Linked DNA regions of Homo sapiens. The protein of the gene in region 6 purifies or fractionates together with the protein of the main gene of each other region. This does not show direct contact. Each region holds a gene or a part of one and is shown on either strand. Other genes may lie near its edges. The genes, in order: TRIOBP, TXLNG, PLEKHH2, AGGF1, REPS1, ENTHD1 and SASS6.

Evidence for each region.
Region 1: the proteins of ENTHD1 (region 6) and TRIOBP purify together in Homo sapiens (affinity purification with mass spectrometry; one large-scale study listed by BioGRID and IntAct). This does not show direct contact.
Region 2: the proteins of ENTHD1 (region 6) and TXLNG purify together in Homo sapiens (affinity purification with mass spectrometry; one large-scale study listed by BioGRID and IntAct). This does not show direct contact.
Region 3: the proteins of ENTHD1 (region 6) and PLEKHH2 purify together in Homo sapiens (affinity purification with mass spectrometry; one large-scale study listed by BioGRID and IntAct). This does not show direct contact.
Region 4: the proteins of ENTHD1 (region 6) and AGGF1 purify together in Homo sapiens (affinity purification with mass spectrometry; one large-scale study listed by BioGRID and IntAct). This does not show direct contact.
Region 5: the proteins of ENTHD1 (region 6) and REPS1 purify together in Homo sapiens (affinity purification with mass spectrometry; one large-scale study listed by BioGRID and IntAct). This does not show direct contact.
Region 7: the proteins of ENTHD1 (region 6) and SASS6 purify together in Homo sapiens (affinity purification with mass spectrometry; one large-scale study listed by BioGRID and IntAct). This does not show direct contact.

The regions. Positions count from the first base shown.
Region 1 is NC_000022.11:37,770,048-37,773,547, reverse strand, and holds part of TRIOBP (TRIO and F-actin-binding protein), read right to left. Parts: intron 1,899-3,500; coding exon 1,812-1,898; intron 948-1,811; coding exon 786-947; 3' UTR 784-785; intron 1-783.
Region 2 is NC_000023.11:16,824,466-16,827,965, reverse strand, and holds part of TXLNG (gamma-taxilin), read right to left. Parts: intron 1-3,500. UniProt on the Homo sapiens protein: May be involved in intracellular vesicle traffic. Inhibits ATF4-mediated transcription, possibly by dimerizing with ATF4 to form inactive dimers that cannot bind DNA. May be involved in regulating bone mass density through an ATF4-dependent pathway.
Region 3 is NC_000002.12:43,643,760-43,647,259, reverse strand, and holds part of PLEKHH2 (pleckstrin homology domain-containing family H member 2), read right to left. Parts: intron 2,590-3,500; 5' UTR 2,587-2,589; coding exon 2,464-2,586; intron 1-2,463. UniProt on the Homo sapiens protein: In the kidney glomerulus may play a role in linking podocyte foot processes to the glomerular basement membrane. May be involved in stabilization of F-actin by attenuating its depolymerization. Can recruit TGFB1I1 from focal adhesions to podocyte lamellipodia.
Region 4 is NC_000005.10:77,036,904-77,040,403, forward strand, and holds part of AGGF1 (angiogenic factor with G patch and FHA domains 1), read left to right. Parts: intron 1-2,627; coding exon 2,628-2,816; intron 2,817-3,500. UniProt on the Homo sapiens protein: Promotes angiogenesis and the proliferation of endothelial cells. Able to bind to endothelial cells and promote cell proliferation, suggesting that it may act in an autocrine fashion.
Region 5 is NC_000006.12:138,981,754-138,985,253, forward strand, and holds part of REPS1 (ralBP1-associated Eps domain-containing protein 1), read right to left. Parts: intron 1-3,500. UniProt on the Homo sapiens protein: May coordinate the cellular actions of activated EGF receptors and Ral-GTPases.
Region 6 is NC_000022.11:39,890,961-39,894,915, reverse strand, and holds the start of ENTHD1 (ENTH domain-containing protein 1), read left to right. Parts: upstream 1-1,155; 5' UTR 1,156-1,221; exon of another isoform or gene 1,222-1,932; intron 1,933-3,955.
Region 7 is NC_000001.11:100,126,431-100,129,930, forward strand, and holds part of SASS6 (spindle assembly abnormal protein 6 homolog), read right to left. Parts: intron 334-3,500; exon of another isoform or gene 222-333; intron 1-221.

The DNA.
Region 1 (3,500 bases), 2.1 Mb from region 6:
GTTGAAAAAGCAAAAATAAGAACACTTTGGCCAGGTGCAGCGGCTCACACCTGTAATCTCAGAATTTTGGGAGGCTGAGGCAGGTGTATTGCTTGAGCCCAGGAGTTCGAGACCAGCCTGGGAAATCACGGCGAAACCCCACCTATACAAAAAGTGCAAAAATTATCTGGGCATGGTGGTGAGGGCCTGTGGTCCCAGCTACTCAGAAGGCTGAGGTGGGAGGATCCCTTGAGCCTAGGAGGTTGAGGCTGCAGTGAGCCGTGATTGCACCACTGCACTCCAGCCTGGGTGTCAGAGTAAGACCTTTCTCAAAGCAACCAAAACCAACCAACCAACCAACCAACCAACCAACCAACCAACCAACCAACCACTTTGAGCCCTGCTAAGTCAAGAAGGAGTGTTAAGACTAACTGGGATAGAAGCCCGGCCTCAGCGTGCGATGTGTGTGTGTGAAGCTCAGTGGAGATTCACTGTGGGGGTCAGGGATGTGCACGCTGCATTTGCCTCCAGCCCCAAGAAGGGGGGTGCACTGAGTAGGCTGTGGCTCTGCACTGTGCCGCCCAGCTCTGGAGGAACAGGCTTAAGCTGATGAAGCAGCCTGTGGCCCGGGTCTGATGGGATCTCTGCAACAACCCCGTGTTGCTGGTTTCATTGTCCTTTTTACAGAACGGGAATTGGAGGCCAGAAGAAGGAAGTGGCCTGGCTGGGGTGGTCCAGGGAGTCCCGGGTGTGGGAGAGCCTCAGCCCCTGCCCACCCTGCAGGGCACACGCCTCGGCATCCACCTCTACTCAGCCAGGCTGTTGCGCATCGACTCCTTCTCCTGGAGGGCGGCCATGGCAAGACGCAGGTGCTCCTTCAGCTGCTCGATCTCCCGCTCAGACCGTGTCTTGATGTGGCTCAGCTCCACATAGACGTCCTGGTACTTTCCCGAGGTGAAGCGCTTGTCCTGGGGGGCAGGAGGCAGGTATGAGGGCATGAAGTCTCTCCCTCCAGCCCTGCCAACCGGGCACATGGGCAGCACCAGCAGCCAGACCTCCCCGCAGATACCTCGCTTCATCCCTCCAGGTGGCTCCCCAAGATGGCCGTGGGTTCTGGGCTTACCCCTCCCACCTCCCTGGTACCACCCAGGGACACAGGCGTCATTGTCATCCTCATCCTGTTTCGGGGGAGAAGATTTTGACCAAGACCGCAGGGCAGTGAGTGGCTGGGATGAGAACCAGGTCAGCCTGGCTGGGTGCTCGGGCCCTTCCTGTGAGTTCACGCCACCTGTTCTTCAAGTGCGGTAAACACGGTCTGGCTCACGTGCACTTACAGAGCCACCAACATGTCCACTTCCTGCCCCAAACTGACAGAGCGCACCAGGCAGTGACATAGCAGCCAAGGGTGGGCCAGGCGGGCTGCAGACTCAGACCTGGGCTGAACCCTGACCCACCCAACTCCTAGCAACGTGGTTATTCTCACTGGAGTGCAAGCTCCCCACAGCAGAGATTTGGGGTTATTTTGTTCACATCTGTCTTCCCAGCACCTAGCACAGTGCCCAGGATATAGTAGGTGCTCAATAATAATCAATAAATTAAATAATGCTAAATAAACAGAAGCCAAGTACAGCCTTGGGGAAGTCACTTCCCCTTTCTTAGTCTCAGTTTCCCTGTCAGTGAATGGGGATGATGACACCTACATGGGAGAAGCACAGGAGAGCCTGAGGAAGGATGAAGCGAGTGGAGGGCTTGGCACAGAGCAGGTGCTCACAGGATGGCATCCAGATGGCTCCAGAGTCCCCGACGGCCCCCAGCCCAGCGGAAGGACCTACCTTCTGCATCATCTGGAGCTCGTCCCGGAGGCACTGCACCTCCTTCTTTAGGTACTGGAGTTCGTTTTCTTTTACGCGAAGCAGCACCTGGGGATATAGGTGCTGGACTGACCCAGGGCCAGAAGCCAGAGCTACCCTGGCCCATAGTGCCCTGCAGCCCGGGTTCTCTCTGCCTCAGGCCCCTAGAATGCAGCCCCTATCTGCACAAAAACCCTCTACATCCTGGAGGCGGACTCCTCCAGGAAGCCCTCTCCGATTCCCCTGCTTTGCCTTCCCTTACTCTCACCCCTGTCCAGCCCGTGTGAGTGGATATCTCACGGTCAAGTCTGCTGCAGCCCTCATGCAGCACCAGGCTCTCACCTCGGGAGTGAGATGGATGAAAAGAAGCCCTACATAAACCTGAGCAGGCTGAACCACTCCACAAGGCACCTCATTAACCCCTCCCCAACCCCGAGGGCTAGGTGCTGCTGACTTGACCAAGGAGGAAACAAGTTCAGCCAGGACTGGGGAGGCTTAAAAGCTCAGACTGGAGCCAGACTGCCTGGTTCAAATCCCAGTCCAGCTATAAAAGCTTTGGTAAGGTACTTGACCTTCCTGTGCCTCAGTTTCCTCATCTGTAAATGGGGACAGTCATAGTAGCTAATGTATGGAGCTGTCAGGAAGATTAGATGAGTTAACAGACAAAAAGGGCTTCCAGAATTTCTAGGTACAGAGTGAGCCTCACCTAAGTGTTTGTTGAAGAAATAAAATATTGGGGCCAGGAGCGGTGGCTCACGCCTGTAATCCCAGCACTTTGGGAGGCAGAGGCGGGCGGATCACGAGGTCAGGAGATTGGGACCATCCCGGCTAACATGGTGAAACCCCGTCTCTACTAAAAATACAAAAAATTAGCCAGGTGTGGTGGCGGGTGCCTGTAGTCCCAGCTACTCGGGAGGCTGAGGCAGGAGAATGGCATGAACCCGAGAGGCGGAGCTTGCAGTGAGCCGAGATGGTGCCACTGCACTCCAGCCTGGGTGACAGAGTGACTCCGTCTCAAAAAAAAAAAGAGAAATAAAATATCGGCTGGGCACGGTGGCTCACGCCTGTAATCCCAACACTTTGAGAGGCCGAAGTGGGCGGATCACCTGAGGTTGGGAGTTCGAGAAGAGCCTGACCAACATGGAAAAACCCTGTCTCTACTAAAAATACAAAATTATCCAGGCGAGGTGGCACATGCCTGTAATCCTAGCTACTTGGGAGGCTGAGGCAGGATAATCGCTTTTTTTTTTTAATATTTTTTTTTTTTTTGAGACGGAGTCTCGCTCTGTCACCCAGGCTGGAGTGCAGTGGCACGATCTCGGCTCACTGCACGCTCCGCCTCCCAGGTTCATGCCATTCTCCTGCCTCAGCCTCCGGAGTGGCTGGGACTACAGGCACCCGCCACCGCGCCCGCCACCACGCCCGGGTAATTTTTTTGTATTTTTAGTAGAGACGGGGTTTCACTGTGTTAGCCAGGATGGTCTTGATCTCCTACCTCGTGATCTGCCCGCCTCGGCCTCCCAAAGTGCTGGGATTACAGGCGTGAGCCACCGCGCCCGGCCAGGAGAATCGTTTTAACCTGGGAGGCGGAGGTTGTGGTGAGCCGAGATCGCGCCACTGCACTGTAGCCTGGGCAACAACAGCAAAACTCTGTCTCAAAAAAAAAAAAAA
Region 2 (3,500 bases), on a different chromosome or scaffold from region 6:
ATTGTTTCATGCCATGCTACACTGCCACCCTTCTCTTCTCTCCTCTTCCAGTTGTGACAAAAAAGTAAGCAAATTTAGGGCAGCAGAAAATAATCCATCTTTTTCTTTTTTAAAAAAAAATCCTTTAGACAGATTTAATTTTCACAACCCTTTATTATCCAGGTTTTATAGAAGAAATGTATAAGCCTGGAGACATTAATAAGTTGCCTAACATTCTTTAATTAGTACAGATAATCAGTAAGGGGTGAGGTGGGATTTGAACCCAGCAGCCTGAATCTCTGGCTTTCTTGACTTCCGTATTGGCCTGCTATCCCCTGGGGTCCTGAATTTTGCCAGCTTTCTGACTTCAGACACTGATCACAGATCTTCTCCCTGCTTTCAACCCAACAACTCACAAGCAACATGGGCTCCTCAACTTCCAGCTATGATCTTGTGCTTTTTGAAGGATGATGCCCTTCAACTGGATACCTCCTGCCCCTGAATTTTCCTGGGCCCACTGGGAACACTGCCCAAGTATTCCAGCCTTAACCCTTTGGAAAATAAACCAGCTCCAGTTCTAGCTGAAACCTACTCCAATGTTGAAGGCCAGGAGTGACTCAGTGCTAAAGCCAGGCATGTCCCGAATTGCTGTTTGCTGGGTGAATGTCTGTCTAGATCATTTCCTACCTGGCAAAAAACCCGCTGAAATCCAAATATTTTAACAATCAATTTATTGTGCTTTGGGGTTTTGATTTTTTTATTTTCATTATCATTTTTTTAGATGGACTATTATTCTGTTGCACAATCTCGGCTCACTGCAGCCTCCACCTCCCGGGTTCAAGCGATTCTCCTGCCTCAGCCTCCCGAGTAGCTAGGACTACAGGCACCTGCCACCACGCCCAGCTAATTTTTGTATTTTTAGTAGAGACAGGGTTTCCCTATGTTGGCCAGACTGGTCTCAAACTCATGACCTCAATTGATCCACCTGCCTTGGCCTCCCAAAGTGCTGGGATTACAAGCATAAGCCACCATGCCCGGCCGGGTTTTGCTTTTTTGAGATGGAGTTTCACTCTAGTTGCCCAGGCTGGAGTGCAATGGATCGCGCCATTGCACTCCAGCCTAGGCAACAAGAGTTAAAGCGATTCTCCTGCCTCAGCCTCCCAAGTAGCTGGGATTATAGGCATGCGCCACCACACCCAGCTAATTTTGTATTTTTAGTAGAAATGGGGTTTCTCCATGTTGGTCAGGCTGGTCTCGAACTCCCGACCTCAGGTGATCCGCCCACCTCGGCCTCCCAAAGTGCTGAGAATACAGGCATGAGCCACCGTGCCCAGCAGGTTTTTGTTTTTTTAAATGATGCTTTAGGAGTCGATACCATCAAGTTTTACACCCACAGGCTACTATACTGAAACAGTCATCAGAATCTAAAACTCAGTAAACAGCACTCAGGGTTCTTTGTAAGAAGAACTGCTGCAGTTTTGGGTATGGAACAAATCAGTCTGTTTCAAGGTTAAATCAACATGAACAGATAAGATGGCAGCCTTACTGACCTTTCAATAAAGCTTTTACTGAAAAAGAAAATGATGCTGAGTCACAATTTGAAGAGCAAGAGTGACATCTTGTGGCCTACCAAAACATATCACGCATCCTTACAGCCACATTTACAGATATTAAAAACACCTTTACTGAAATTCTTGCAGGAAAAAAAATCATTGTTTTTGCATAATTTTGTAAAGCAAAATTACTGCGAACTGTACACGGCTGCCCAGTTTAAGAGGCTGCAGGTCCGGCACATACTAGCTGTAATTTCACCAGGGTGCAGAGCTCCTGCCTTTCCTGACCCAGGGTTAGCGCAATCCTGAATCCGGCGTTCATTATTCCTTCGCTTTCCTTTCTATATAATTTCATTTCATCTGTGTGCACTTCTCTAAAAAAAAAATCCTTTTGGTTTTAGCTGTTTTGACTTTATTGTAGCTAGTGCAAATGAGGAATTGAAATTTTCATTTAATTTACACTAATTTAATAAGCCACATGTGGCTGATGGCTACTGTCTTGGACAGCGCAACTCGATTACATTGCTAGGACTCATCCACATTGTTGGCGTGTAGCTGCAGATCAGGACTTAGCAGATTTTTTCTGTAAAGGGCCAGCAAGTAAATATTTTAGGCACTGCAGGCCACATATGGTCTCTGTCACGTGTTCTTTATTTTTAAACATCTTAAAAATTAAAACCATTCTTGTGGGCAGTGTAAAAACAGACTTCGGATGCATTTGGCCCACAGGCTGTATAATATTCCACTTTTTAAAAACACAGCACACACACAAACATACCACACAAAGTGAGAACCTGTCTCTAAAAAATAAACAGTGAGCCATGATTGCGCCACTGCACTCCAGCCTGGGTGGTAGAGTGAGACCCTGTCTGAAAAATAAACAAACAAGTAGATAAAAAATAAAAACACACCACACATACACACAAAACTCTTTATTAATCCATCTTCTTGCATCAACAGGCATCTGGGCTGTCTCTAGGTTTTGTTATTACTCACAGTGGTATGAACATTCTCATGTGTTTCCTGGTATACACGTGTCAGGAATTTCTCCTCTGTGCAAACATCAGAAATGAGGTTGCTGGGCAATGATTTCTAAATGTTTGATTTCACATGACAATGGTGAATTGATATTCCCAACAGCAATATATAAGAGACCACGTAGATCCACATCCTCTCCAAAATGATCAGATTTCTTCATTTATGCCACTACAATAGACGTAAAATGGCATCTCACTGTGGTCCTAATTTGCATTTCCCTAATCACTTATCAGGTGGAACATCTCTTTGAATGTTTATGGACCTTTATGTTAAGGTATCTTCGTATCTTTGTTTTTCCACTTCTATGAAATGTCCCTTTCATGTCTCTCATCCAGCTTTCCATAGGGCTATTTGTCCTTTTCACATTAGTGTTCTTTAGATATTCTTGATACTAAATCGCCTGCTGGTTATATTTGTTGGAAATATGTTCTCCCCAGTTTGTAATGTCGTCTCACTTTTTTTTTTTTTCTGAGATGAAGTCTCACTCTGCTGCCCAGGCTGGAATGCAGTGGTGCGATCTTGGCTCACTGCAACTTCCGCCTCCCCAGTTCAAGCGATTCTCCTGCCTCAACCTCCTGAGTAGCTGGAACTACAGGCGCGCAAACACCATGCCCGGCTAATTTTTTTTTTTTTATTTTTTTAGTAGAGACGGGCTTTCACCATATTGGACAGGCTGGTCTTGAATTCCTGACCTCGTGATCCGCCTGCCTCAGGCTCCCAAAGTGCTGGGATTACAGGTGTGAGCCACCGCGCTTGGCCATCTTCTCACTTTTTTTCAGGGCATCTTTTGACGAAAACAAAGTTCTTAATTTCAATAAAGCAAATTTGTACAATCTTTCCTCTGACAGTGCTTTTTGTGCTATAAGAAATATTTCCTAAACTCAAGGTTTGAAAAATATTTATCTATTGATAAATCAAAATAATATCTAC
Region 3 (3,500 bases), on a different chromosome or scaffold from region 6:
GATTTAAAAGTTTATATATTTAAAGCACTTAGAAGATTTCTTGGCATAGTAAGCAACAGTTTCCTAATCTATAAAATGAGCACAATAAAATGTATTACTTCACAAGTTGTTATAAGAATTAAATAAATCATACCATACCTATACAGAGCTTATCCTATACATAATAAATCAATAAATATTAGATATTTTCATTAAAACATGGATGGAGACCAAAAGAAATTTTTAAACCTGAGAAAAATATTCATAATGGAATATAACAGAAAATATTGTGAAAATCCTTATTCATATTTTTGTGTTGAATATATTTATTGGGAAGCCATGAGTAACTTGGCACATTTATCTACTTTCCAATGTGTAAAACACATCAGAATAATTCCATCTCTTAGATCTGCCAAAGAATTTATGTCACAGATACGAAATACAGACCAAAAAAAAAAAAAGAAGAAGAAAATTAAAGAAAAAGAAACCACAACTAGAACAGCAATTCCGAAATAACATTCCTATCAATGTTCATTCACTGACAAAGAAAACATTTAATCTGATAGCATAAAAATTAATAATAAAAAAGCTATTTTACTTATAGAGAAATTACTGGAGATAACAACACTTTTATTATTTTTAAAATGGGCACTCATTGAGAAACTTGCTGCAACATGCTTTCTAAAGAACAGAACAAATGTTGCCATAAAATTTAGAATTTAAAGGTCAACTAATTGCAACCCAAATAAGCTAATATCTTCTATTTAGTCCATAAGGAAGCCAAACGAGTACAGAAGTCAAGAAAAGCAGGAAAATTTTGAGAGGGATCCTGTGGTCAACAGTGTCAACTGCTGAGAGGCTTAGGCAACAAATGGGAAGTGTCCATGAGGTTTAGTAATAAGGACATAATTGGTGGATCCTGACAAAAATCACTGTATGGGGCAGTTGGGGTTGTTGGAAAATACCGGATAAATCATAGTACAACATGGAAAATGATTTTCATTGACAGAAGAGCAAAAGATAAAAGATGAGTCACTAAGTTACGTTAGAAAAAACTTCTCCAACTTGGAGATACTCAAACTGGGATTTTATAAGCTATAATTTTAATAATTTTGATGTAATATCAATAAATAAAGCACATTGAAGTTCAGGATTCATTGACTGATTGATTACTGAGTCATCCTTGACCCAAAGTGAGTAAGGATAACTTTAGTCTTCTACCTAAAAGATGTTAAAGCCCAAAAGTTTGAGATGATATATATGCAAGTTTAGACTTAATGATGTTTTGCTGAATGTTATTATAATAATTCTGTACTAAGAGATTCTTGGCTAGCAATGAAAGGAAGATTTAATACCTTTTTTGGAGATATGATACATGTACCAATCTCCATCCCAAAAGGATTATGCAGATTAGTGTTTCAGAAACCACCTGTAAGTTCTTCTGATCAGTTCTGAATAACCACTAATATCATTCATCCATTCATCCAGACAGTGCTTTCCAATAGAAATATAATATGAGCCACAGGTGTGATTTTAAATTTTCTAATACACACGTTTAAAAAGTAAAAAGAAGTGGGTAAAATTAATTTTAATATTGCCTATTTAACCCAATATCCACAATATCATTTCAACATATAATCAATATAAAAATTATTGCTGAGATATTTTACATTCTTTCATGCTAAAACTTTGAAATCCTGTATTTATTCTACTTTTACAACACACCTCAATTTGAACTAGCCTTATCTGAAGTGTTGAACATCCACATGTGGCTAGTGGCTACTGCATTGGGACAGCAGAGGTCTAGAATTCAAGTTCCCTGGAAATAGGAATATGGGTTGTCTTGTTCATATATGTAACTGTAGTATTAAGAACGGTGTCTAACACATAATTAGCCCTCAAAGAATATTTGTTGAATGAATAAATGAACAAATCTATTGGTTTTATACACATACTTGCAAAAAATTCCTGTAATATAAATGAAATTCTAATTACATGATTAGAAAAGCATATAATTATTTTAAACTCAATTCTAGCCCAGGCAAGAATTTAGCAATATATACTTAGTCAACACAGATTCCTAAGTAGATACATCTTTCAAATACGGTATAAACACATTTTACTATCAATAGATAATTTTTTTCTATAATCCCTTCAATATGATTTTTGTAAACATTTAGTAGATCAAAGCTGTCATACTCCTCTAATAAAATCAAATAAATTATAGCTTTCTCTCTGGAATGAATGAACTCTACATTCACCAAACATACACGGTTCTCACATATGCCACTAGCATTTGCAAATAAATATTTTTTGTCTTAAAGTCCAATCTACCCTAACACTGGCAAAAGAATATGCCAAATATAGCTTCAAATACTTGACAAAAATTAAATCAAACCCCCAAAGTACTGAGATTATTTAATATAAATGAAGCAGACCCTAAATAGCTGACATTTAATAACAAAGCTTAGGGAGAAAGCTTACCTTCTCTGCTAAAAGCTCTCGTATCTTGCTTGCTTGAACTCTAAATTTCATGAGTTGGGACTCCAGAGCTACACATCGTTCCTTCCAATCTACTGGTCCCTCTGGCTCAGAAAGCTCTGCCATATTCTAAAAAAATTAAATAAATAAACAAAAAATTAAAAAGTAAAACATTCAAATGCTACAACACAATTAATATTCAGGATAATTTGTTAAATTACCCAATGTACACATTATAATCACTGTCTAGTGAGATCCATGTACAAATTTTAAATTCTAAGACAAATTCCAGAACTGGTGAGAACTTATGGAAAGAACTTAATGGGAAATAGGAGACTAAGGCTGGATGGAGCCCAACTGTGCTACTTAACCTTTCTATGTCTCAGTTTAGCCAATCCAGAAAAGGGGGCATGTTGACAACAAACCATTATTCCTTGTGGGTATGTAGTGAGGGACAAATGAAATACTGCTATTTCTAGTAGAACAGACAGTATAACAACACCACACAAACACAGAGTGTTATTATTTTAGCTGTGCCCAACAGATAAGATTGTTTGAATCTATCAGCTCATAATTTTACCATATTCTGAAATTTAAGGAAGTATTACAGTTTGATTCAATTGCTACAATTCACGGTTTGGATTTTTACTATAATGATTCCTTATCATCACTCTCAATTTGGCCAGGTCCAGGTTAAGTCTTTCAAGCCAGAGGTCCTTTGGCGTATTTAAGGGTAAGTTGTTGTGATCCTGACAAGTTTGCATAATTTTTATTTGGTGTAAGAGAAGGCACATATACATGCAATTTGGAGTTAGCCATATGAAGTAAATCTGGAATTAGTGTTTTCCATATTAACTTTCCTTTGGGAGGATATTAATTGCAGGGAGAAGCACTGTAAGGGGGAGGACAAGATGCAAGGGAATTGGTTTTGAAATTTTGAAGTGTTACTTGATTTTGGAAGCATGATGGTTTCTGGCTCTGAGATACATAAAAGTAGTTTTAAATGTTTGGTAATATTTTATCAGGCTATTTTTAATAAG
Region 4 (3,500 bases), on a different chromosome or scaffold from region 6:
ATTTTTTGTATTTTTAGTAGAGGCAGGGTTTCGCCATGTCGGCCAGGCTGGTCTCGAATTACATCTCAGACCTTTTAATACTGTATGATACATACTCAGTGCCTGATATCAAATATTAAACCCTAAGCCGAAGTAAGAAAGCAAAAAGCTGCATTTAAAATTATATTTGACTCAAAACTATTTGACAGAAGAATTCTAAAATAGCTTATGATGCTACACTTCTAAGTTTTTAAAATAAGGTTAAGGTTAAAATAAATTTTATTGTGATTATTATAGACAATGTTTTGGAGAAGTCTTTATGTATAAAAATAACAGACAAAAATACTGGAGCTTTTGTTAATAAAAGCAGATAGTTAACTACATCGTAAATATTTTAGAACCTAAACCAGTATTTTTTTCATAGAATTAATAGAGAAGTGAGGTTAATTTTAGGCTTGGAATGAGAATTTTAAAAATTATATCAAATACTTTATGAATTCATTTTAGGCCACATAAGGAGACTTCTTTCTTGAATTCTTAGTAGTATGTTTATTATTAGCCAGTGTTTTATATCCTGTGCCTTTTAACTATTTCACTTTAAACATTCAGTCTGTTGGCTAGGCATGGTGGCTCACTCCTTGTAATCCTAGCACTTTAGGAGGCTGAGGCAGGTGGATTGCTTGAGTCGAGTGCAAGACCAGCCTGGGCAACACAGTGAGACTCTTTCTATAAAAAATTTTAAAAGTCAGCTGGATGTAGTGGCTCACCCTCTAGTCCCAGCTACTCAGGAGGCTGATGTGGGAGCGTCGCTTGAGCTGGGAAGATGGAGGCTGCAGTGAGCCATGATTGCACCACTGCCCTCCAGACTAGGTGACAGAGTGAGACCCTGTCTCAAAAAACAAGCAAACAAAAATCAATCTGTTAGCAATGAGAACTAGGGAATTAATATGGGATCTAAAATATAATGGACCACTGACTAGGATAGAACCAGAAAATAAAGTTCTTGATTTATAATACAGTGTTATAGCTGTTGAAGTCTAATAATTATATTTCGTTGAAGATTTGATGACAATGATAGAACTCAGTCACATACCTCAAACTCAAGAATCTAGTAATGTAATCTGGTTTTCTGAGGAATTATAGAATGTGGTACACAAAAGTGGAGTTGACGTTCATCATTCCTGTTACTGGAACTATTGTTATCTAGAGAACATAAGATAATACTAAATATCTCAATTAACATAAGAGGTGTCATTAGTTTGTCAATCTGCATATGGTAAACTGTAAGTCCTTTGTAAAGAGAGGGTTTTCTTTCATGGGGGTTGCTAATTGACAATGCTAATTAATAACCAGGAAATTAATGTTTAAACACTTATCCAAAGGGAGTAGTTATTTAGTTTCTAGGAAAACAATAGTTTCAAGTAGACATTAGTCTTTGTCAATCTTCTGCCTGTCTTTCTGTATCTTTTCTCTTGACATCAGTTGTTTTGTAAATGGTTAGTACGTTCTGCAGGTTATATTTCTGAGTAAATTAGGAACTTCATTGTGTTGCCATTTTCATTGTGCTAATATTTTAATAAATTTTTTTTATATTTTGAAAATGTCTATATTTTGGACTGATAAACAGATTTAAAAGGTTTGAATTATAAAAGTTCCATTATTACTAGAAATAAAGATTGGAAAGCCTCCACTCAGTTTCTTAGTTAAGAGAAAGATGGTGAGAAATCTAAATATTTTTTGTAAGAGATCTGCAAAATGCATGGATTAAAGACAATAAATTGCAAGTGTCAATAGTTAGAAAAATAAATTATTCTTTTTCAGGAAGTTTTAGTTGCTCAATCTCAGTACATTAAAGATGTTTCCGGGTCTGGTCTGCATGGATTTAGGATGTAAATAAAATATAGACTGTTCAATTAAATTTGGTTTTAGAGTACTGGCCAGTATATCATAAATATAGGTGATTACCTAATTTTATCTTTCTGGTTTTTAAATCTGTAATTTGCCAAATTCATTTATGCATGGTTGCTTGTAAGTCTTATTTACTATAGAACTGATTAATTAGTGGAGACAGTTTATTGATTGCATTTTATAGAATGTTATTTTTTGGTATGCATGAACTTTATTTTCAAAATTTTCTTCTCTAATTTTAAGTTATGAACATCAAAAGACAAATCTTTGTTTTATGACATTGAGAGGAGGGTTTAGGGGTTTATACTGCCACACCATTATTGTGCAGTCATTAAGAATCAGGAGTCTAGAATTGCGCTCATATGGTCAGCTTTTTCTTATGCTTGCTTTAGTTTTCATGCCTTTAAAAGTATTATCAATTTTTTTAATGTATTAAGTGGAACCATATGAAATTGCTGTTTCTTATAAGTTAAAAGTGGTCAAGTATTGACAATTTTATATGATTAAATTTAATATTTAGATTTACTTGTTTCTCACACTAGGAAAATTAGATCAGTTATTGAATGGTAAAGTATTTTGGAAGATTAAAGCATTTTTTATTGTTATCTTTAATTCATTGTCTTCTGAAAATACTATAGTTGTTCAAAGAAATATTTACCACATTTGAATGTATTTGGCATTTTCGTTAAGTTTATTTTATCTTACATGAATAGAATTTATTTTTTTCTTGACTTTCAAAGGAAAATCAACTCTATTATGATCCTTCCACTGGAATTTATTACTATTGTGATGTGGAAAGTGGTCGTTATCAGTTTCATTCTCGAGTAGATTTGCAACCTTATCCGACTTCTAGCACAAAACAAAGTAAAGATAAAAAATTGAAGAAGAAAAGAAAAGATCCAGATTCTTCTGCAACAAATGAGGAAAAGGTAATGTCTTTACAATTTTAAAAATTGACATAATGGTGATAACATGATAATTAAGACAAAATTTTTTATGAAACTGACAATCATTCAATAACTCTGCATTTCAAACATACCCATTAAGATAACCTAGGAAAGTTTAGATGGAGCAAACATGGACTTTTTCATAAACTCTGTCACTAGAAATAGAAAGCATTTCTTAAAATTTGAAGGAGATAGATTAAGGTCAGATAAAATATCTCGTATATAGTTTGGAAGAAGAATTCAGATCCTCAGTTGATAAGTTGATGTCAATGCACAGTTCATAATAAAAGATAAACACAGTTTATAGGTAGACATAGATACAGGTTCAACTTTCTTAGTTATGTGGAGCAATTTTTTACTTACTAGGACAATTTTTTTTTTTTTTTTTGAGACAGAGTTTCACTCTTGTTGCCCGGGCTGGAATGCAATGGCGTGATCTCAGCTCACCGCAACCTCCGCCTCCCAGGTTCAAGTGATTCTCCTGCCTCAGCCTCCCGAGTAGCTGGGATTACAGGCATGCACCAACACGTCTGGCTAATTTTTTTGTAATCTTAGTAGAGACGGGGCTTCTCCATGTGGTCAGGCTCGTCTCGAACTCCTGACCTCAGCTGATCCTCCTGCCTCTGCCTCCCAAAGTGCTGAGATTACAGGCATGAGCCACCGCAC
Region 5 (3,500 bases), on a different chromosome or scaffold from region 6:
CAGGGTTACAAAGTTAGCTGATGCCAGAACTGGAACTTGCCTCCCACAGTTAGTGCTCTTTATACCAGCTTCTCATGCTCTTGTGTCGCTCCATCAAATGTTTGGCACGAATTCCCAATATACTAAAACTCTAACTCTGGGCTATTGATTAAAACAAACAAACAAACAAACAAAATGACTGAAACTAGCACAAGAAACTCAAGAAGACAGAAATTTTAAAAGTAAATAAATAGGACACTACAGAAACACATTGACTGTGACTTCTTTCACAAACAGTATCTTTTTCAACTGTGTATAGGTAAGTGATTATGGCAAGATTATTTCTGTAGTTTATTACAATTATTTTAGTGATTCAGAACTAAAAACCACTACTCCAGAATAACAAACCTGAGACTTATTAAGTTTATAACTTTCAACACAGAAATGAGCTCTGCTTTCCTATTTTTAAACTTATCACTAATGCCAGATCTTGTAATTGATTTAAACAAGTTTCAAGACAAAAACAAAATGGTTTGTTTCACTGTTATTGCTTTTCCCCATTAAATTTATGTGTTATGCAAATATTCTAACAAGATATTGCTCTACACAAATGATCTAAAGATTTTCAGCTTCATTAACAGGGTACATTGCTTACAAACCTCAATGAAAGAACAGTTAGTACTAGAACCCTTTATCAATCTATTATGCATTCAAAGTCTGTATGAAGTTTTAAGACATTTCCCAAAACAGAAGCTTTTGGTAAAAGCTAAGAAAACATTCTGATTAGTGTGGTAAATAGTATATCTTTCCTAATCTTTAAAAAACAAAATAAACTACTTTGGGAAAAGCTGACTTTTAAGCCACAACACTGAATATTTTCTTGCTCGGCAGACAGCAAAATTCCTCATGATTAAATCCTATGAGCCAGATTTTTCTCCCCCTCATCTTGCTATTATGTGGCATGGAGCATAATTTTACAAAGCATGCACTCCTTCACTTTGTCTATTGACATTCTGTCTTCAAAAACAAACTCTTAAACTCAGAATAGATTTTCCTCTGCTATTCAAAAGCAACTGTAATGAACACACCTTAAAACATCTGACAGTGGTAATAAAGAAAAATTGTATTTGTGTGTGCCCTGAACACCAACTACAAGAATCTCCCTCTTTCTCTGAAGTGGCTGTGTTTCAAGACATCATCATACATTAAACTACTTACTACGCAAAGGAGTAAGTTGATACGTAACACAAAATCAGATATTCTAAAATCCCTACTGTTCATAAGAACTATGGGGAAGTCAAAATCAGACCAACTGAATTTTATTCCTCACCCTGCTCCCAAACCACATGACCAGAGAAGGTAAGAGCTGGGACGTGAATAATAGTAAGGGAGAGATACGAATATTCACAAATAAATTATTTAACTTATCTGCTATCAAGTTCTTAGTGAACAAGAATAAGCCTGTAATCCCAGCACTCTGGGAGGCTGAAGTGGGCAGATCACAAGGTCAGGAGTTCAAGACCAGCCTGGCCAATATGGTGAAACCCCGACTCTACTAAAAATACAAAAATTAGCCGAGTGTGGTGGTGGCGCATGCCTGTAGTCCCAGCTACCCAGGAGGCTGAGGCAGAAGAATCGCTTGAGCCTGGGAGGTGGAGGTTGCAGTGAGCCGAGATTGCACCACTGCACTCCAGCCTGGGCAACAGAGCGAGAGACTGTCTCAAAAAATAAAAATAAAAATAAAAATAAACAAGAATAACACCCACTTCACAAGGTTGTTGCAAGAATCAAATGAGTTCTTCCATGAAAATGATTTGCCTGGTTAAAGGAACATAATAGGCACTCGATAAATGCCAGCTCCTTCCTCGTTTGGTTCTGGACTCGGTGTTATTTGTTCTCTACACTCATGCCCCCAGATGACTCAGTCTCCTCCTAACTTTTACTAACAAACACCGAAAACTACTGTACCAACCAAGGTCCTGATATGTATGTGCATGCCCAGTCTATGTGACACTGTCTCCCGTCCCTAAACACTTAGGTGAGCAAAACAGAGGAAGAAATCCCGAACCTCTGAACCTGAACTGCTGTAAGAACCAGCAGTTGGGGTGGACAAATCTCCACCCACTTCCCACTGTCTCCAAGAGATCTGAATTGCCATCTAAGAATGTCTGAAACCAAACTCATCATTGTCTCTTTTAAAAAGTAAGCCCTCTTCCTGCCCCTTTTCTAACTGTGAGTGGTGTCCAAAGAATAATCCTTGCCCCACTGTATTCTCACCAAAACACTGCCAAATAACCCAGGCCTATCACGTTTACCTTCATAATCTCTACCATCTCTCTCTCTCTCTTTTTTTTTTTTTTTTTTTGAGACAGCGTCTTGCTCTGTCATCTAGGCTGGAGTGCAGTGGCGCGATCTTGGCTCACTGCAACCTCCTCCTCCTCCCAGGTTCTAAGTGATTCTCCTGCCTCAGCCTCTGGAGTAGCTGGGATTACAGGCATGCGCCACCACATGCGGCTAATTTTGTATTTTTAGTACAGAAAGGGTTTCACCATGTTGGCCAGGTTGGTCTCCAACTCCTGACCTCAGGTGATCCACCTGCCTCAGCCTCCCAAAGTGCTGGGATTACAGGCATGAGCCACTGTGCCCGGCCCATATCTGATTTTTTGTCCCACTCCCACCACTATAGTCCAGGTTAGGGTTTCTCAGTCTCAGCACTATTGACATCTTGGGCACATAATGCTTGTGGAGGCTGTCCTGTGCACTGCAGGATGTTTAGCAACATTTCTGGCCTCTACCCACTAGATGCCAGTAGAACTGCTCTCTCCCCTCTAGTTATGACAATCAAAATGTCTCTAGACACTGCCAAATGCCTCTTCCCCATTGTCACCTTCATTCCCATGTTTGAGTACCACTGGCCCAGTTTCTCACTTCGTATCTGCCATACAAAATCAGCCCCCAAGTTAAGTCTACAGTTTTATTCCTCTAATTCCTGTGGCCCTGACAAACGACTCCTAAAGCACTGCTTTATGAGTCATTTCTCTTAAATCTACCACTCCCTGTTACCTACACAATTAGTTCAAAGCTCTCCATCCAACCTTGATAATCTGGCCTCAATTAAACATTATTCCACAAAGCACCTCATATAGTGGCTACCCAGCAGTCCTTCAATAACATATCCAGTCTCTCCCTTTCTATTCTACTGCTGTCACCCTGGTTGGATGTCCATGACCTAGCACCCAATCCAGACCACTGAAAGAGTGTCATTCCTTACCCTTTCTGCCACTCAAAGTCAAAAACTTTTCAATGGGTCTCCATTGCTTGCTGAAATATCGTTATCTGCTGCCCTTCTTCAGAGTCTTTCCCAATATGGCCTCTTTCTAATTTTATATTCTGTTATCCCGAAAACACTAGTCCTTGAAAAGGCTCCTACACTTTCCACTTCTGATCACTTTTCTCTGCCTGGAAGCCCTCATAATTCCATTCCCCTCACTCCACCCTAATTTAAAGTCCATCTGAATTAA
Region 6 (3,955 bases):
AGATGTAAACTCTTCTGTGAAACCTGCCCTTAAATACTCAGTGGCAGAATTAGATGATCTCTTCTCTCTTACTATGCCATACATATCTTGTTACAATCTTCTCTGACGGTGCCTGTCACCTCCACTAGCCTGTAAACGTATCCAGCAGAGGGCTGCTTTTTATCTCCGAGTCCTTACTGTCTGGCACAAAGTGGGTGCTCACGGAAAATCAGTTGAATACATCAACAATTACCCGTCAGTGGCACCTGAAGCCATCAGTCACTGGAGCTACCCCATCATTGTCCATCACACACACTGCTCTTCATAGACTACTATTACATTCTCAGTCCTTTGAGGTGGCAATCACGTGCTGGTGGTATTTCTAGTCAGTTGAAATGACAGTAGTAACACACTTTTAAAAATGTATTCATGTGCCATGCTGGTGCGCTGCACCCACTAACTCGTCATCTAGCATTAGGTATATCTCCCAATGCTATCCCTCCCCCCTCCCCCCACCCCACAACAGTCCCCAGAGTGTGATGTTCCCCTTCCTGTGTCCATGTGTTCTCATTGTTCAATTCCCACCTATGAGTGAGAATATGCGGTGTTTGGTTTTTTGTTCTTGCGATAGTTTACTGAGAATGATGATTTCCAATTTCATCCATGTCCTTAAAACTTAAATAATAATAAATAAAAAAAAAGAGATATTATGCTAGAAGTCTGAGTATTTTACTGATTTTCCATTTTAAGAATAAATTATCATGGCAAATTTTAAGTTACATACATTATTTTATTGTCTACTTTTTAAAAACATTATCAGCTTACCTTGGCATTTTTTTTCTTTTTTTAATGTCCGTTTTTACGTTGTGAACATTTAGTAAATTAATTTATACTCATTTTTATTTAATTAAGAAAGCAGCTAAGAATAAATGCTAGTGTCTGATTAAACTATTTCCCAGATCTCAAAAAAAAAAAAAAATTTATTCTTTGAAAGGAGGATTAGGGCAGTGTCACAGCCCGGCAGCCTGTGAAACGAAGACACTTACCTTCATTCCCCTTGGTACCCTCCAGCTCAGGTATCTGCAACCATCTTGCTTGACGCCCTGACAGGAACTGCACCAGGCCAGAAAGTGAGGAAGCGGAAGTGGGGACCGGCCTGGGCCCTTGAGCCTGGCTGGAGTAGGTGGAATATCCTGGGGAGAGGAAGTTTGGTCGTTGGGCAGCGGCCGACTTTCCTCTCAGGTAACAGCCTCTGCTTGGGAGTGGTGGTGGGGCTCAAGGCGGGTCTGGAAACATCGGTTGCCTTCCCTCCTCCCGTTTCTTGCCGGCACCGTCGGAGTCCAGGTGGGGGCGGGAGGGCGGCGAGGCCATTACCATCCGCAGGAGGTGAAATCCCTGTGGCGTGACGTGACGCCATCACGTCCCTCTCTCCTTCTAGAGGCTTTCCTGAGGTCCAGCCTTCCCCTCCACTGCCGGTTCTCCTAGGGTAATTGCTGGTCTGATTCTCTGTGTGGCCGAACGCCCAGCACCTGGCTCATCTGGTACACAGTCGTCATCTGAAGTGGGGGTTGTATGAATGAAGACGAGGATGCCGAGGAAAGGCCCTGCCCACAGAAAGTTGATTCTTGCTCAGCCTCCACCCGCCATTTTCAAAATTCTTTCCAAAGCATCTCGTTTCTTCCTCCCCCACGGCCCTGTCTGGCGATTATTCTTTGTGTTGCGGATGAGGGAACTGAGACTTAGAGAAGTTGTTAAGTCTTAGTTAGGAAATGGCAAAGCAGGACCTCAAATCATGGCTTTGAATCCTAATTAAAGGAGAGAGATGAGGCATGTGAAGGCCCAGGTGTGAGCACATTGTGAGCGTTCAATGAAGAGTAGCTGTTTACTCCAGGGTGTGAGGACTGTGTCTTGTGCACCTGTTTCTCCATTTCCTAGAATGGAGCCTGCCACATGGTAAGCTCTGGAAGATTATTAGTTGAATAAATTAATGAACACACACTTAGGGCTGGAAAAGATTAGATTCTCTGCCTCTGACAGTATTCTTTTCATCAAAACAGTAACACCTCCTAATGGCATGGTAGTCTCTATAACCATTTTCCCGTAGCATTCTTGGCCAGAGCTCATTTCCTTACGAGTCAAACTCATGTCTATAGGCAGAACCTGTACAAACACAAGAGCTGTTCTTTTCTCATAGTTCCACCTTAAATGCATCTTTTCAGAGATAGCTCTGGACACTCAGCCTCTTAGATGCTATTGTCATTATTGTCCCAAGTCTTTGGATAAAGTCAGTTCAGCTCCTCTGTTCCTTATTCTCAATCCTGAAATCCAAAAACTTTTGGAAATCAACTTTTCCTCCAACTCATTTGGTGGTAAAACTTGGCCTGAGGCCATTTGTAGTCTTTATTCCAAATATTTACATGTTTTTATTGCAGACATGTTAATGTGTTTAATTGTTCAGAGCAGCTCCACACCTTACTGTGGGTATCATGTAATATATGGTATAGACATGGCACTACTCTTGAAAATTCCACCCCTACCACCGCACCCAAAAGAGAATTTCCACAAATCATCTGGCCTCAAAGGATTGGGATAAAAGATCGTGGACCAATAGTTTAATGCCAGCTGATAAATCATTTCCTGTTAGAATTCAGATGAAATGGGGGGAAGGAAACAGCATTGTGAAAGTGGGCAGATCTAAAAATAACACTAAAAGACCTTTTCTACGTAATCATTTGTTTTGCTGGGAATTATTTAGGAGAGAAAGCTCCTTAACTGAATGGTAAGTTTTAATGTGAGGTTCATGTTTTATATTTCTCCACAAAGCTATACAAATGGTAGGTACTCAAGAAATATCTGTTGATGATTTGAAAATATTTGCTCAAAACTATAGAATTTTACTTGACAATTATGAGAGCTAGATTTTATTTATTTATTTTTTTAATATCATGCTTTATAGGAGTTTGTGACCATCTGGGCAACCAATAAGAACTCGTGTCTAAAAAAAAAATTTTTTTTGAGGCCAAGCACGGTGGCTCACACCTGTAATCCCAGCACTCTGGGAGGCCGAGGCAGGCGGATCACTTGAGGTCAGGAGTTCAAGACCACCCTGGTCAATATGGTGAAACCCCGTCTCTACTAAAAATACAAAAAATTAGCTGGGCTTGGTGGCTCATGGCTGCAGTCCCAGCTACTTGGGAGGCTGAGGCAGGAGAATTGCTTGAACCTGGGAGGTGGAGGTTGCAATGAGCCAAGATCGTGCCACTTCACTCCAGCCTGGGTGACAGAGCAAGACCCTATCTCAAAAAAAAAAATAAAATTTTTTTTTTAATTAGTTAGGCTTGGTGGTATGCACCTGTAGTCCCAGCTACTTGGGAGGCTGAGGCAGGGGGATTGCTTGAGCCCAGGAGTTTGCAAGCAGCCTGGGCTACATAGTGAGGCTTTATCTCAAAAAAAAAAAAAAAGTGATTATAATTATAAAGCTATAGAATCAGTGCAGGTTTATCCCAAGGCAGAATCATTCAATCATTGTGTTATTTGCACAACACATGTTTCTTGAGTATCTACTGTTGCTAATTAGCTGTTAGGGATAGGATTACAGTGGTAAATAAGACCGTCAAGGTCCCTGCCCCCAAGGAGCTTCCAGTTTGGTGGTGAAGAAAGGCACTGAGCAAATGACAAATAGGTAAGTACAGATTGTTACAAGTGCAATGAAGGAAATTAACCAGGTTCTGGGGAGACCTAAGTAGTTAGTGAGGTCGGTGAAGACCTCTCAGATTTGTGACATGAAATACCTAACTTCTTCCCTCTATTTCTAAATATTATAGTGAGTTGGGTAGCCAGACAACCAAGATTCAAATGTGGAAATTTACCCTCTTGGGCACTAATTTTGTCTCATGTCAATTTTTGTCACATCACTGTAGTTACAATCTCACAGTTATTTGATGCTGTATGTAAACAGCATTTTCATGTAGTCAGG
Region 7 (3,500 bases), on a different chromosome or scaffold from region 6:
ATTACCATGTCATGTAATCAAACTGATTAATGAGAGACTGATTGCATTTTAAAAACTTAGTATGTGGCCCGTCGCAGTGGCTCACACCTGTAATCCTGGCACTTTGGGTGGCTGAAGCAGGCAGATCACTTGAGGTCAAGAGTTGGAGACCAGCCTGTTAACACGGCAAAACCTCATCTCTACAAAAAATACAAAAACAAGCCAGGCGTGGTGGCACCCACCTGTAGTCCCAGCTATTTGGGAGGCTGAGGTTGGAGAAATGCGGAACCTGGTAGGCAGAGGCTGCAGTGAGCCAATACTGCACCACTGCACACCAGCCTGGGCAACAGAGACCCTGTCTCAAAAAATAAAATAAAATAAAATAAAAACTTAATATGTGAAGCGATATTAGAATGCTTTGAATGTTTAAAATCAAGGAAATAACATATTCCCTACATTTATTCATACAAAAACGTATTTTCACATCCACGAATTAAATCTGCTTAATATATTCTTTATGTAATAAAACCACAGAAGTATTATCAACAAGTTTATTACACCTATTTTATCCTTGAGTAAAGTAACTTTAAGCCCTGAGAGGGAGAGACCACAGTGTTCCACATCCTATGCTGTATCTTAGAGAATCCAGAATTGGACAGAGGTATATAGGTGAAAGTGCTCATAAACATTAATCAAATAGAGCACAAATGCTTATATAATTCAGAAAATAAAGGGAGAAATTAGTAAAAAATACCTATGCACAAGTACTTCTCAAACTATTCTGCCAGAATTAAATAACAATGGCCTTTCTTTGATGTGCAGGTAGAAAAAAGTAAACTAACAAATAGAATTTGTTCAATTTTAAGTTTTTCTTCTAAGGACTTCTTTTAAACCTTTTCCACACTATTGCTTATCTACTACACAAGTAAAAAGTATAAACAGCAATTGAGTACTGATAGGAAAACTTGGAAACAGTTGATCAAGGCTAGATTCAATTGTTTAGATTTTTTAATGCTGACTTGTAATTTTATATGGGTTTAAAATGTGTCATTTTAGTTAAGTTTCTTGTTGAACATATGATTGGATGCTAAATCTCCGTTTGTACAATAAGGTTAAATGTTACCTCATAACTTGTATCTGTTTTCTGAAAAGGAACAAGAAGCACTGGTTTACACCAGAGAGAGGAAGAATTATTTTCAAAACAAGAGAATACACTGTTGCTATTTTTCTAGTATCTAAAGCAACATATGTGAAACAGATTAGAGTGTTACTCCAATTCCATTTAAGCTTTCCTGAGCTGGGCACAGTGCCTCCCACCTGTAGTGCTGGCTACTTCAGAGGCTGAGGCAGGAGGATAGCTTGAGCCCAGGGGTTCAAGTCCAGTCTGGGCAACACAGCAAGATTAAGCTTTCGTGGTGGGGTGGGGGAGGGGGGGACTCAGTTTCCGAACTTGTAAGATAAGTGGATTCAACTAGAAGGTTTGTGAAAACCTTTTTAGCTCTACATCATTATGTTTGGTTTTCATCTTCTGAAGTTTTCTCTAGTATAAATGCCATAGTGGTATGATACTGCAGTTGGTATTTAACTTTTTATGGTGCTTTACAGTTTATTTTTATTTTAATTATTTATTTATTTATTTATTTTTGAGACAGAGTTTCGCTCTGTCACCCAGTCTGGAGTGCAATGGTGCGATCTTGGCTCACTGCAACCTCCGCCTCCCAGGTTCAAACGATTCTCCTGCCTCAGTCTCCTGAGTAGCTGAGTTTACAGGGGCACAACACCACACCTGGCTAATTTTCGTATTTTTAGTAGAGATGGGGTTTCACCATGTTGGCCAGACTGGTCTCAAACTCCTGACCTCAAGTGATCTGCCCACCTCAGCCTCCCAAAGTGATAGCAGTACAGGCGTGGGCCACTGCACCTAGACGGTGTTTTACGGTTTTAAAAGTCCTGTCATACTTCATATATTTGCAAAAAGTACAAGAAGAATTCACTTATCAAAGTGTTCTTTACATAATCCTGGAAGAGTTATATTACTATGACAATTTACCAATCATATTAATGATATTGTTGCATATATTCCAAATGCCTATATACATTAGATGTTGAAAGAAAAAACGGAAGGCCTGTAAGTTAAACGAATTCCCCATGCTTAGTTAAAAAACATCCCTAGAAATATGCTGTAGAAAAATACAAGCTTTCAGAGGATACGCTAACTAAAATCACAAATCTTATTTTTTCCCTTATAATGGTTAATGTCATAAGAGCAATATAAAACAATAAAAACTCAATAAAATGTTATTTCTCATCTCAATAGATGTCGTACTCAATAGATGTCTAATACTAATGACATTAGATTTAGTTATGAGTTCTTCTAAATAAAAAGTATTCTAAACATCAGGCTTGCTTTAGCACAACTGGATTCTAGGCCATCTCTGACACCCAGTAGCTGTGCTCTTAAACTATCAATCAAACAAATAAAAGGTACTTTAAGCCAGGTATTGTGCCAGGTGCTAGGGATACAAACAGAAATAAACATGGTCCAGGGGCTTGGCACAGTGGCTCACATCTGTAATCCCAGCACTTTGGGAGGCTGAGGTGGGTGGATCACCTGAGGCCAAGAGTTCAAGACCAGCATGGGCAACATAGCAAAATCCTATCTCTACAAAAAATTTATAAAATGAGCCAGGCATGGTGGTGCATGCCTGTAGTTTCATGTACTCTGGAAGCTGAAGCAGGAGAGCTTAAGACCAAGAGTTTGAGATTACAGTAAGCCATGATTATGACACAACACTCTAGCCTGGGCAACAGAGTGACAGCCTCTCTCTAAAAAAAAAAAAATAATAATTTTTGAACATAGGATGACACAAACAAAACAAAACAAAAAAAACCATGGTCTCTGTCCTCAAATTGAGATGAGATTAATGACTTTTTGCTAGATTTGCTTCTGATTGCATTTTAGGGCTCCATGAGAGGGGAGGGAAGGGTTACCAACACTACTGAGTACCTGCCAGGTATTCTACATATATCATCTTATTTAACAATAATCTTGATAAGTAAATATTATTTATTTTACAAAAGAAGAACTTAAGGCCCAAATAATGGTTTAAGGTCACATTACAGAGCCCAAATGAAAACTCAGATCTTTCACCTACACCACACTATCTAATAACTGAATAATGGCAATTCATTTCAACTTAGGCAACTTTGAAGGGTCCTTATAGTGAAAGGATTTAAGACATACCTGAAAGTTATGAAAGAAAAAAGCATTTGAGGCACAAGGAACAGCAGGGGTAATAGTATAGAATGAGTATCAGGTATATTCAGAAGGTAACAAGAATGCTTGTATGACTTTCATATTGGAGAGATAAGCTTAGGAAACAAAACTGAAAAGGCAGATTAGTGTCAAATCATGGGTTCCAAAATTTTGCATAATTTTCCACCAGATGAAGTTCCCTGATCATTACCACTGTCCTCAACTGAATTTCCTTCTTCTCTGACTTTAGTGTACTTATATTACT